Linked DNA regions of Homo sapiens: region 1 is linked to region 2. The links come from fine-mapping of genetic effects on gene expression. A gene starts in region 2. The other region holds a variant in brackets. All regions are shown on one strand. Distances are between the middles of the regions.

Region 1 (5,388 bases), 23 kb after region 2:
GCCACTGTGCCCGGCCGAAGGTATTAGACTTTCTAGAACCATATCTTTGTTTCTGAAGAATTTTTTGAAGAATTTGAAAAATGAGGTCATTTTTTATACGTGTTTGGAAGCAGCAAGTTTTAGAGAGCAAAACAAAACAACAATGAAAAAACAGTAACAACTCCAAAAATCACACACACACACACACACACACACAATCTAGACTTTAAACTTAATCACACACACACACAAAAAGATCTCTGAAACAGGGGTTTATAGACACCCCCCGCAAGCCTCATCAATGGACCCTATGTAAGGAAAACCTACCTCTAAAGATTACTCATTGGTATCTTATTTTTAAATATAATTTTGTTCCATATATATTTTCTTCCACAACCAATGAAGATTTTTTGATTCTTGATGGAAGCATATCTTTTATTTCCTTAGTATTTCTCACATGTATATAAAGTACTTCGCAGGCAGCAGAGATTCAGTAACAATTTTTATTTAGTGAATTGGCAGTAGGTAGTAAGCGAATAGTCCTTAGGTGACGGTTCTCAAATCTCTGTGCCCTGTCTATAGTGATCAAAGGCTCAGTTCTGGGGACCAGACCTTTCTATAGGCTGATTGATGCTTGCGAGCCCAGGAGTGTCGAAAGAACAAATGCCCATGTTTTAGTAGGGCCCCAGGTCCTGAGATGAATCCCTTCCAGAAAAGCCCTTTCTTAATAATCAAGCGACAGAAAACTCGTTTGTGTTTTTTCTTTCACACTTTATTATTTGTGCACTTTAGGCATTTTTTCCAACTCTTTTTTTTTTTTTTTTTTGAGACGGAGTCTTGCTCTGTCGCCCAGGCTGGAGTGCAGTGGCGCAATCTTGGCTCACTGCAAGCTCCGCCTCCCGGGTTCACGCCATTCTCCTGCCTCAGCCTCCCGAGTAGCTGGGACTACAGGCGCCCGCCACCACGCCCGGCTAATTTTTTGTATTTTTAGTAGAGACGGGGTTTCACCGTGGTCTCGATCTCCTGACCTCGCGATCTGCCCGCCTTGGCCTCCCAAAGCGCTGGGATTACAGGCTTGAGCCACCGCGCCCGGCCCAACTCTTGGGTAATGTATCTTTTAAACTAGTTTTAAAAATTTTAATAGTGTACACACTTATAAGTAAAATTTTCAAGCCAGACAAAAAATATAAAATGAAAAGCAAAAGAACTCCCTCTTCTTCACACCCCTGTCCCACTTTTCAGAAATAACCACTGTTAATATTTCTTATGGTATTTAATTATTTGCTACACATATACATATAAACATACATATATGTATGTCTCACTGGTTTGTTAGAATTCTTTCTATATTAAAGGAATAAGTATTTTATTAAATGGATGAAAAACATGCTTTCACAGCTTGGTATTTGAAGAAGATTTTCATTTTAAATATTTGAGCTTACTGTTTTTCCTTTTTGGCTTGCAGATATTATATGTCTTTTAGCTGAAGAACAATTTTTTTAACCTCAAGATAAAACAATGCCTTATTCAGAATTTTTTATTTATTTCCAGCCACCGAATTTCTTCATAGAGTAAGAGAAAAGAGGAAATTATTAAAAAAAAAAAAATCACAGCCAGGCACGATGGCTCATGCCTATAATTCCAGCACTTTGGGAGGCCAAGGAGAGCAGATTACTTGAGGTCAGGCATTCAAGACCAGCCTGAACAACATGGCAAACCCCATCTCTACTAAAAATACAAAAATTAGCTGGGTGTGGTGGTGCACGCCTATAATCCCAGCTACTAGGGAGACTGAGGCATGAGAATTGCTTGAACCCAGGAGGCAGAGGTTGTACTAAGCCGAGATTGCACCAGCGCACTCCAGCCTGGGCAACAGAGCGAGACTCTGTCTCAGAACAAACAAACAAACAAAACCCTCAGTGTTCTGGGAAACAGTTTTTTGTTTGTTTGTTTTTTGTTTTTTTTGAGACAGAGTCTTGCTTTGTTGCCCAGGCTGGAGTGCAGTGGTGTTATCTCGGCTCACTGCAACCTCTGCTTCCCGGGTTTAAG[C/T]GATTCTCCTGTCTCAGTCTCCTGAGTAGCTGGGATTACAGGTGTGCACCACCACACCTGGCTAATTTTTGTATTTTTAGTAAAGATGAGGTTTCACCATGTTGGTCAGCCTGGTCTTGAACTCCTGACCTCGTGATCCACCCACCTCAGCCTCCCAAAGTGCTGGAATTACAGGCATGAGCCACCGCGCCCGGCTAGGAAACAGTTTTAAAGATTTTTTTTTTAAATTGCATTGTCCTAGGAAAGCGTCAGTAGTGGGCACATTACTAGGAAGTAAATTTGGAATGAACACGACCATACTAAAGAGCTAGAATACAGCATACTTCTTGAATCCAGGCTACCCACTTAATAACTTGAGTGAGTTACCTAATCTCTCTGTGCTTTTAGTTTTTCATCTCTTTAAAAAGTCATAATAGTACCTACCTCATAGGGTTGTTATAAGCATTAAATAAGTTATATGTGTAAAGGCTTAGAAAAGTGTCAGGACAGGCCAGGCATGGTGGCTCACGCCTGTAATCCCAGCACTTTGGGAAGCCGAGGCGGGCGGATCACGAGGTCAGGAGATCAAGACCATCCTGGCTAACATGGTGAAACCCCATCTCTACTAAAAAATAGAAAAAATTAGTTGGGCGTGGTGGCGCCTGTAGTCCCAGCTACTTGGAGGCTGAGGCAGGAGAATGGCATGAACCCAGGAGGCGGAGCTTGCAGTGAGCCGAGATCCCGCCACTGCATGCACTCCAGCCTGGGTGACAGAGTGAGACACCGTCTCAAAAAAAAAAAGTGTCAGGACAGTGGCAAGCAATAATATAATCGCTCTCTTCATCACCACTCATGAGAAATTCATGCTATCATGAAAGGAAATGAGACATAGAGAGAGGACAATTTAAATTTAAATCCAAAGCAATACATCAGAAATTCAAAATAATATCCTACAAGCATAATACATAACTGCTAAAAGGCCAAAAACTGATTTGCTTTGGGTAGGATTGGTTAAGAGAAGTATAACTTTTTAATGTAAAAATAATTTCAAACTTAGAGAAAATTTGCAAGAATAATATACAAAGAACCCACGTATTCCTTTTATACAGTCACGAATGGTTAATGTTTTGTTCTGTTAGCTTTATTATATTCTGTCTTTGTCTCTCTGTATATAGATAAAGATATATAATTTTTTTCTGAGCCATTAGAAGTTATGTATATATACTCTACCACTTTACTCTATGTACCTCTGTGTGTATTTCTTAAGAACAAAGTAATTCTCTTAAATAACCATAGAATAGTTATCAACTTCAGAATATCTATTATTGGTACTTTTATTTAATGTACTCTCTATACACCAATTTTGTCAATTGACCCAATAATGTTCTTTTTAAGCATTTTTTTCCTTCTGTATAAGATCCAGTATGGGATCACATATTGCATTTAGTTGGGAAATATAACTCAATTTCCAAATATATCAGAATAATTCCATGAAAATTCCTTTGTAATTACATTAATCTAATCTATCTTTGTCAGTAAGTTAGTATCTGATATTTGACCTTAACTTCCTATAGACTTAAAGTAATGTCTGTGTCCATGTTAAATTGATGTGCTTGATACCAAAATCATCTTTTATTCTGCAGGTCACTTAGAAAATTGGAATTGTACCATGGAACTTCATAATAGATTCTCTGGGAGCAGACGAGAAGCATCATCTTAAAACCACAGCTCTTGCCAGTACATTTTTCTTTACAACTGTTTTTGGTACAACTGCACTGAAGTGTTATTTTTGATGTTGAGCTTTCTTCTTTTAGAAGCATATTGCATGGCTACATTTTCTTAAAAAAAAAAACTGTGACCTTATGCTACTTCATTGTGACTGGAAGACTGCTGGAGAATTCAGAAAGTATATAGTATTTCTGTGTTAGAGCAAGCTGGCTTTGTAGCACATTTTACAAATGTGTGGCATTGAATATTGCACAGTGATGGAGTGGGAGGCAGATTTCCAAAGAGTTAATCCAAAATAAAATTAATCTGTCATTGATTGCCTTTACTGTGTTCTCATATGAAAAGAATGTTTAAATCATTTCAATAAAGCATTAAAAAAATGAATACAGGCTTTCTCTCAGTAGACTATAATGACTACTAGGAGGGAAGATGTTCTGGTCTTTTAGTACCTTTCCAAAATGCTGATTAGGCACATGGCTTAGCCTATCAATGTATGTAATAACAACTTGATCACATGAATGTCAGTACACATAATACATTTCTTAAGGTTTTGGTGTGCCATCTGTCTACAGAACAGTTTTCATCAGCATGTACAAAAACACAGATGGAGATTGTAGACTTTTTCTGAAAATGGTGGTATATTCTCATGTGGGGCTGGGAGACCAATGCAGCGTTTTCCACACTGGGTTTGATTATGGTTCTAAGATTTACCAGTAAGCCTGCAGCTAATTAGGGGGAGGCAAAGGAGGGAATCAGCAACTTGCGGTCCCTGCATGCACTGCTAGGTGTTTAGCTTCATAGGACTTCACCCAGTTTTCTTTTGCCTAGCTCTGCTAGTTATGAGGAAACATTTTTTTCTCGGTAGCTACTGCTGTCTCTCCTTTTACCACCTGCGCGTTTGCCTTACATGCTGCCTGAGGATTTTCACAAATGACATTGTGAATGTGTTGCTAGCTGTGGTCAAATACTCTTTTAGAATCCCTCGGTGGGTCTAAAGCACAAAGGTGTTTGATTTCATCTTCCTACATACATGTGGAATGACAAAAGACAGTCTGGGGTTTGGAGTCTTCCTCCACACTTGCACATCTGAGGAGTACTTCTAAATCAATAAGTTGGCAGCAATGGAGAAGGCTGTTAGGCAGTCACTTGGGTTCAATGAAACAGTGATACTATTGAAAGGAAAAACACAGGCAAATCATCACGCTAATTTTAAAAAATAAAAGCAATGCTAGAAGGAGGGTGGCAGGGGGAGGGGAGTGAAATGTTCCTGTGTATTTTTCTGCTCTTCGAGCCTCTCACAGATTCTCAGGGTTTCTTTTTATTTTTAGCTCAAGAAGTGTTTAATCTCTTGATTAAATATACCTGCTTCCAGTATTTACTGCTTTTCACCAGCACCTCAAAGTCATACATTTAAAGATTGATTTTATTATTTTTTCATCTCATGAAATTGTTATATTTATAATCGAATTTTTTTTTCTGTCTGGCTGAAGATGGCAGATATAATAGAAAATTAAGAAAACAGCAGCAAAAAACAAAATATAACAACATAAAGCTAAGATCTATAATCTTGCCATTCATTGATTACCATGATTGATATGTTGGTATAGTACACACTTCTAATCTTATGTTTTCCCTACATAAATATAGGCAAAA
Region 2 (5,388 bases):
CTCAGCCTCCTGGGTTCAAGCAATCCCCCCACCTCAGCCTGCTGAGTAGCTTGGACTGTAGGGACACACCACAATGCCCAGCTAGTTTTTATCATTTTTTGTAGAGACAGGATTTTGCCATGTTGCTCAGTCTGATCTTGAACTCTTAGGCTCAGGCAATCTACCCACCTCAGCTTCCTAAAGTGCTGGGATGACAGGCATGAGCTACCACACCCAGCCTACAGTTTAGTTTTAATTATAAACAAAATATTAGAATAAATTGAAAATGGCTGGGCGTGGTGGCTTATGCCTGTCATCCCAGCACTTTGGGAGGCCAAGGCAGATGGATCATTTGAGCCCAGGAGTTTGAGACCAGCCAGGGCAACATAGTGAGACCTCATTGCTACAAAAAAAAAAATTAATTAAAAAATAAAAAATTGTCTGGGTGCGGTGGCTCACGCCTGTAATCCCAGCACTTTGGGAGGCCGAGGCGGGCAGATCACCTGAGGTCGGGAGTTCAAGACCAGCCTCATCAACATGGAGAAACCCTGTCTCTACTAAAAATACAAAGTTAGCCGGGCGTGGTGGCGCATGCCTGTAATCCCAGCTACTCCAGAGGCTGAGGCAGGAGAATCGCTTGAATCCGGGAGGCGGAGGTTGTGGTGAGCCAAGATCACACCATTGCACTCCAGCCTGGGCAACAAGAGCAAAACTCCATCTCAAAAAAATGAATAAATAAATAAATAAATAAAAGTAAACAGTCATAGTAGAGGAGAGACTGAATTATTTTTTAATTCTCTCTATAGAAAATACTATGAAACCTTGGTCCTATTAACAGATAATCAAAGAGTATGTAAGAAAAAAAGGAATTTTAGTGTATGTTAGGCAGTTAGTAATCATGAAAATATTAATACTGATTTTTTGTTTGTGGTATTTTTCAGCTCTTTAAAATTTGTAACTTGTAATTAATAGTTCTAAATAAACATACAATTTTGTATTAGTTTCATATTTACAATTCTGCATTCTTTTTATTAAAGACGGTCCCCATAATGTATAAACTTCAGGCTCACCAAACCCGGAAGTGTCTAGGTACAATATAAACTCAATATGGAGTGAACAACTAGTTTAGAAAATTCTATATCTAGGGTTTTGTTAGTGTCTTTCATAATATGACCTCAGGTAATCAAGTGACTTACTTGGCCAGTGGAAAGGAGTGGAAATAAAGATTAAGAGGTGTCAATAACAGACACCCAGCCGTAGATGGGCCAGAAGAACAAACTCTGCCCCTAGTCTAGTGGTATAGAGGAGACACAGACAGAAACCATTAACAAGCTTTAAGCAAGGGAGCAAGTGTTTAAGACTAGGAGGCAGGCGTGTGGGCAGGGATTGTCAGGCCTCTGAGCCCAAGCCAAGCCATCACATCCCCTGTGACTTGCACATATACATCCAGATGGCCTAAAGTAACTGAAGATCCACAAAAGAAGTAAAAATAGTCTTAAGTGATGACATTCCACCATTGTGATTTGTTTCTTCCCCACCCTAACTGATCAATGTGCTTTGTAATCTCCCCCCGCTTAAGCAGGTACTTTGTAATCTCCCCCACCTTTAAGAAGGTTCTTTGTAATTCTCCCCACCCTTGAGCATGTAGTTTGTGAGATCCACCCCCTGCCCACAAAACATTGCTCCTAACTCCACCGCCTATCCCAAAACCTATAAGAACTAATGATAATCCACCACCCTTTGCTGACTCTCTTTTCGGACTCAGCCCGCCTGCACCCAGTTGAAATAAACAGCCATGTTGCTCACACAAAGCCTGTTTGGTGGTCTCTTCACACAGACGCACATGAAAGGGATCTCATCTATAATTAGAAAGATGGTGCTAGCTTGAACCCAGGTGATGTTTCTTCAGGATTGCCACTGTTTTGTATTGACATTCATCGAGTAGAATGATCTTTGGGTCATTGGGTACTTTGGGGCACCCTAACTATGTAGGAGCCAGAGTTTCACTAGCTTCCCCAGCAATCCTTGCTTAGTCAATTGATTCCTATGTCTGCAGCCAAATGCTATAAAAAACTCTGGGGAAGGTAAACTCCTCCCATCCTCTTGGTTTTTCAATTAATCATTTAGATGGGAAACATAAGCCTACTCAGGTAAAAAGACACGTGAACTTCAGGCCAGGATCACAATCCTGTCCCAAATATATGACTTTCCACCCTCCCTCAACCCTTAATGGGGGTGGGCGTAGGGGAGTGTATTTTTAAAACAAATGATTTTAATTCATTCACTGTTTCCTAGCAACCAGGAAAAAGCATGTGTTCCTGATGTCTGTGAGCACCAGTCTGAGATGCGCGGATGCTTCAGCATGCCTCCAGAAGCAGAGAAAGAACAAAAGCACTGGAACCGGTCTCCGGTTGGTGAGCGATTCTCAAAGGGGAATTTGTTAAGAGCAGGCACTTAATAGAACAGCCCGAGAGACCTGTACCACGATTGCAGGTGTGCAGCAGGGAACCTGCATGGAATGTGCAGATATTCTCCAGGAAATGATATTCCTATAGAATTTGGGGGCTCTGACTTCTAGGGAATTGTTTCTATGAAACAGCTAAAGCCTGAGACAGCTGACATCTTTCCAGTACCTCTTTTGTGTGTGCTTTCAGCCACACACAAAACACACAGCGGTCTTGTTTTCTTTAGAGCTCTATAGACAGAGAAGAGGGATAACTGGCAGAATTCAAATCTAGCTGAATTAGAATCCATGCAAATGGCCTTCTTTAGACCAGGCGTAGCTACTAAATGCATATAAATCACTGACTTCCACAGCTGTAAGGGACCTCTCCAATCATTCAACGCTTGTTTTACAGAGGAAGAAATGAAAAAACATAGGCAAATTAATTTGTTCAAGGTGCACAGCTAGTTGGTGGCCTCACAGGGTCTTCTGACCTACAGTTTAGTGGTTTGGGAGTGGGACATACTCATATTTTAAAGACTGAAACCTTTGCATATTATACCATATTGAATGGTGGTGGTGGGGGCAGGGGATGGGGAGGATGAGGGATGATCTAAGACGAAGCTGTCATAACAACGAAGCAATGCAAATATTATAACTTGTAAATCTGAAACTCAAAGGGCTTTCTCAGAATTACAAGACAAGAATGGATTAAAGCACATGCTAACTGTGCCTTACTCCCTGCCAAGGAATTGAGATAGGCCAAATAGTCTAGCAACAAATGTTTTTCCAAACTATTGAATCAGAAGAATTTTAATGCATGCCAGACTTTATAGAGTTACAGAATGTTAGGGTAAGAAGTGCTCTTGGCAATGTTAACCAGGCCCATCTTTTTCGGATAACACCTGAGGCTGGGAAGCAGAAGACGCACAGCCACATCAATGAGTGTGGCTTTCCTGGGTCCAGTGCTCTCTCTTCTCTAGGCAATAGGGCCACCTCTATGGCTTGCTGCATCCTCTCCCCATTGACTCTGTAGGGAGCAATATTATTGTCTTGATACTTAATCAATTTCCTGTGAAATGCTCTTACTTTCTTCCCCACTTTCATCTTATCCACATCCCGTCCACTCCCCAAAAACTAAAGCAGATGTAGCAGCAGCAAGAATGATCCAAAATGGCTGGGCACGGTGGCTCACGCCTGTAATCCCAGCACTTTGGGAGGCTGAGGCAGGTGGATTACAAGGTCAGGAGATGGAGACCATCCTGGCCAATATGATGACACCACCCGGTCTCTACTAAAAGTACAAAACAATTAGCTGGGCTTGGTGGCGTGCACCTGTAGTCCCAGCTACTTGGGAGGCTGAGGCAGGAGAATCACTTGAACCCAGGAGGCAGAGGTTGCAGTGAACCGAAATTGTGCCACTGCACTCCAGCCTGGTGACAGACCGAGACTCCGTCTCAAAAAAAAAAAAAAAATCCAAAATAATGAAGGTGGCCTAGGGAAGCATTCATTTAGATCAGCGCCATCCTGTTGGCTCTCTGCTTACTGTTGGTAGAGCTGAATCAAGTGAAGCTTAGTGTTTATATGGTACCATTTTCAAAAAACCGTTTCTAAAGTTTGTTTTCCAATCATCTTTAGAGTAGTGATTTAAATATACGTACAATTTTAAAAGTACAAAGGGTAGTATAATGAACATCCATGGACTTAGAATTCCAGAGTCAACAACTATTAACATTTTGTTATATTTGAGTATTAGGGTTCCTCAGAGAAATTGAACTGACAGGATGTGTGTGGATACACACACACACACACACACACACACACACACACACACACACGGTGCAGTATAGGCTTAACCATCTCTTTCAAATATTTTGATTTTACAGAATTGGCTCACATGATTGTGGAGTCTTGGCCAGTCCAAAATCTGATAGAGGAGGCCAGCTGCCAGCAGACTCAGGGAAGAGTTGCAGTTTGAATCCAAAGGCTGCCTACTGGCAGATTCCTTCTTGCATGGGGGAGGTCAGTCTTTTGTTCTATCAAGGCTTTCGACTGATTGGAAAAGGCTCACTCAGATAGAGGGCAATCTGCTTTCAAAGTCCACTGATTTAAATGATAATCTCATTAAAAAAAAAACACCAGAAACATCCGGGATAAAGTTTGAACAACTATTTGATCATAGAGGCCCAACCATAAAATAAATTTAAAAATAAATAAAACATCACAAATAGAGTTGATACCCTATTTATACCTCTCCCTGTGTACCCCATTCAATAGTGATGATTTTCTATAGACTCCTTTTTGGTGACTTCAGACTCCTTTTGACCCCATCACCTGATCTTCAATTTCTGGTTCAATGTGGGGGTGGGAATTGAAGACATATTTCCCATAACCATATTTTCTTTCAAGGATCTCCTGGCAATAGGAGAGTGTAGATGGATTCTATGGAAAACTCCATTATGAGCCACTGAGCCAGGGTGAACTCACTGGGAGTTGAATGCTCACAGAAAAACCCAAACACATTCAGATCTAGATGGATCACATCCATCTAGTTTGGATGGTTCTGCCCGAATAGTCTCATCAGCTATTACACAAACCATTTTGGTTTTACTTGCTAGATTATTGCAAGGAAGAGTAAATTAAGTAAATAAGTGTTGGAAAAATTTGGAAGGAATAAAAGGTGTCAAATAAACACAAAAGTACAGTGCATGAGCCTCCAGGTGGCTTTTTGACCCTGAACCTGCCGAGTAAGAGGCCTGAATGAGGTGCTCCCTCAGATCCCTTCCAGAGCCTAGGACTCCATGACTGGTATTTGGAGTGATAGCATCCCTAACTCATATTCTCTCTGATTTGCTGCTGTAGCCTCTAGACTCAGAGAAGCTGGGTCTAAGTGTAGTGTTAGCTGCAGATACCTGCTCAGCTGGCTAAGCCTTTAACATGGAAAGAAGGCTCATAAAGAAGGAAAT

The links. PIP is the estimated chance that this variant, and not a neighbour inherited with it, causes the effect. A credible set is the group of variants that fine-mapping cannot tell apart.
Region 1: its variant is the best candidate, but not a certain one, in a credible set for the expression of C2orf80 in caudate (GTEx, PIP 0.63).

What each region holds. Positions count from the first base shown.
Region 1 is chr2:208,164,078-208,169,465 of GRCh38, reverse strand. It overlaps C2orf80 (chromosome 2 open reading frame 80), which reads left to right. Exons shown (of 9, transcript NM_001099334.3): 9 at 3,651-4,119. The coding sequence ends at 3,659. Among named protein-coding and RNA genes, the nearest start is that of CRYGA, 3.2 kb to the right of the region's middle. The variant C/T (reference allele first, on the strand shown) is at 2,029.
Region 2 is chr2:208,186,958-208,192,345 of GRCh38, reverse strand. It overlaps C2orf80 (chromosome 2 open reading frame 80), which reads left to right and starts at 2,316. Exons shown (of 9, transcript NM_001099334.3): 1 at 2,316-2,393; 2 at 5,285-5,388. The coding sequence starts at 5,360.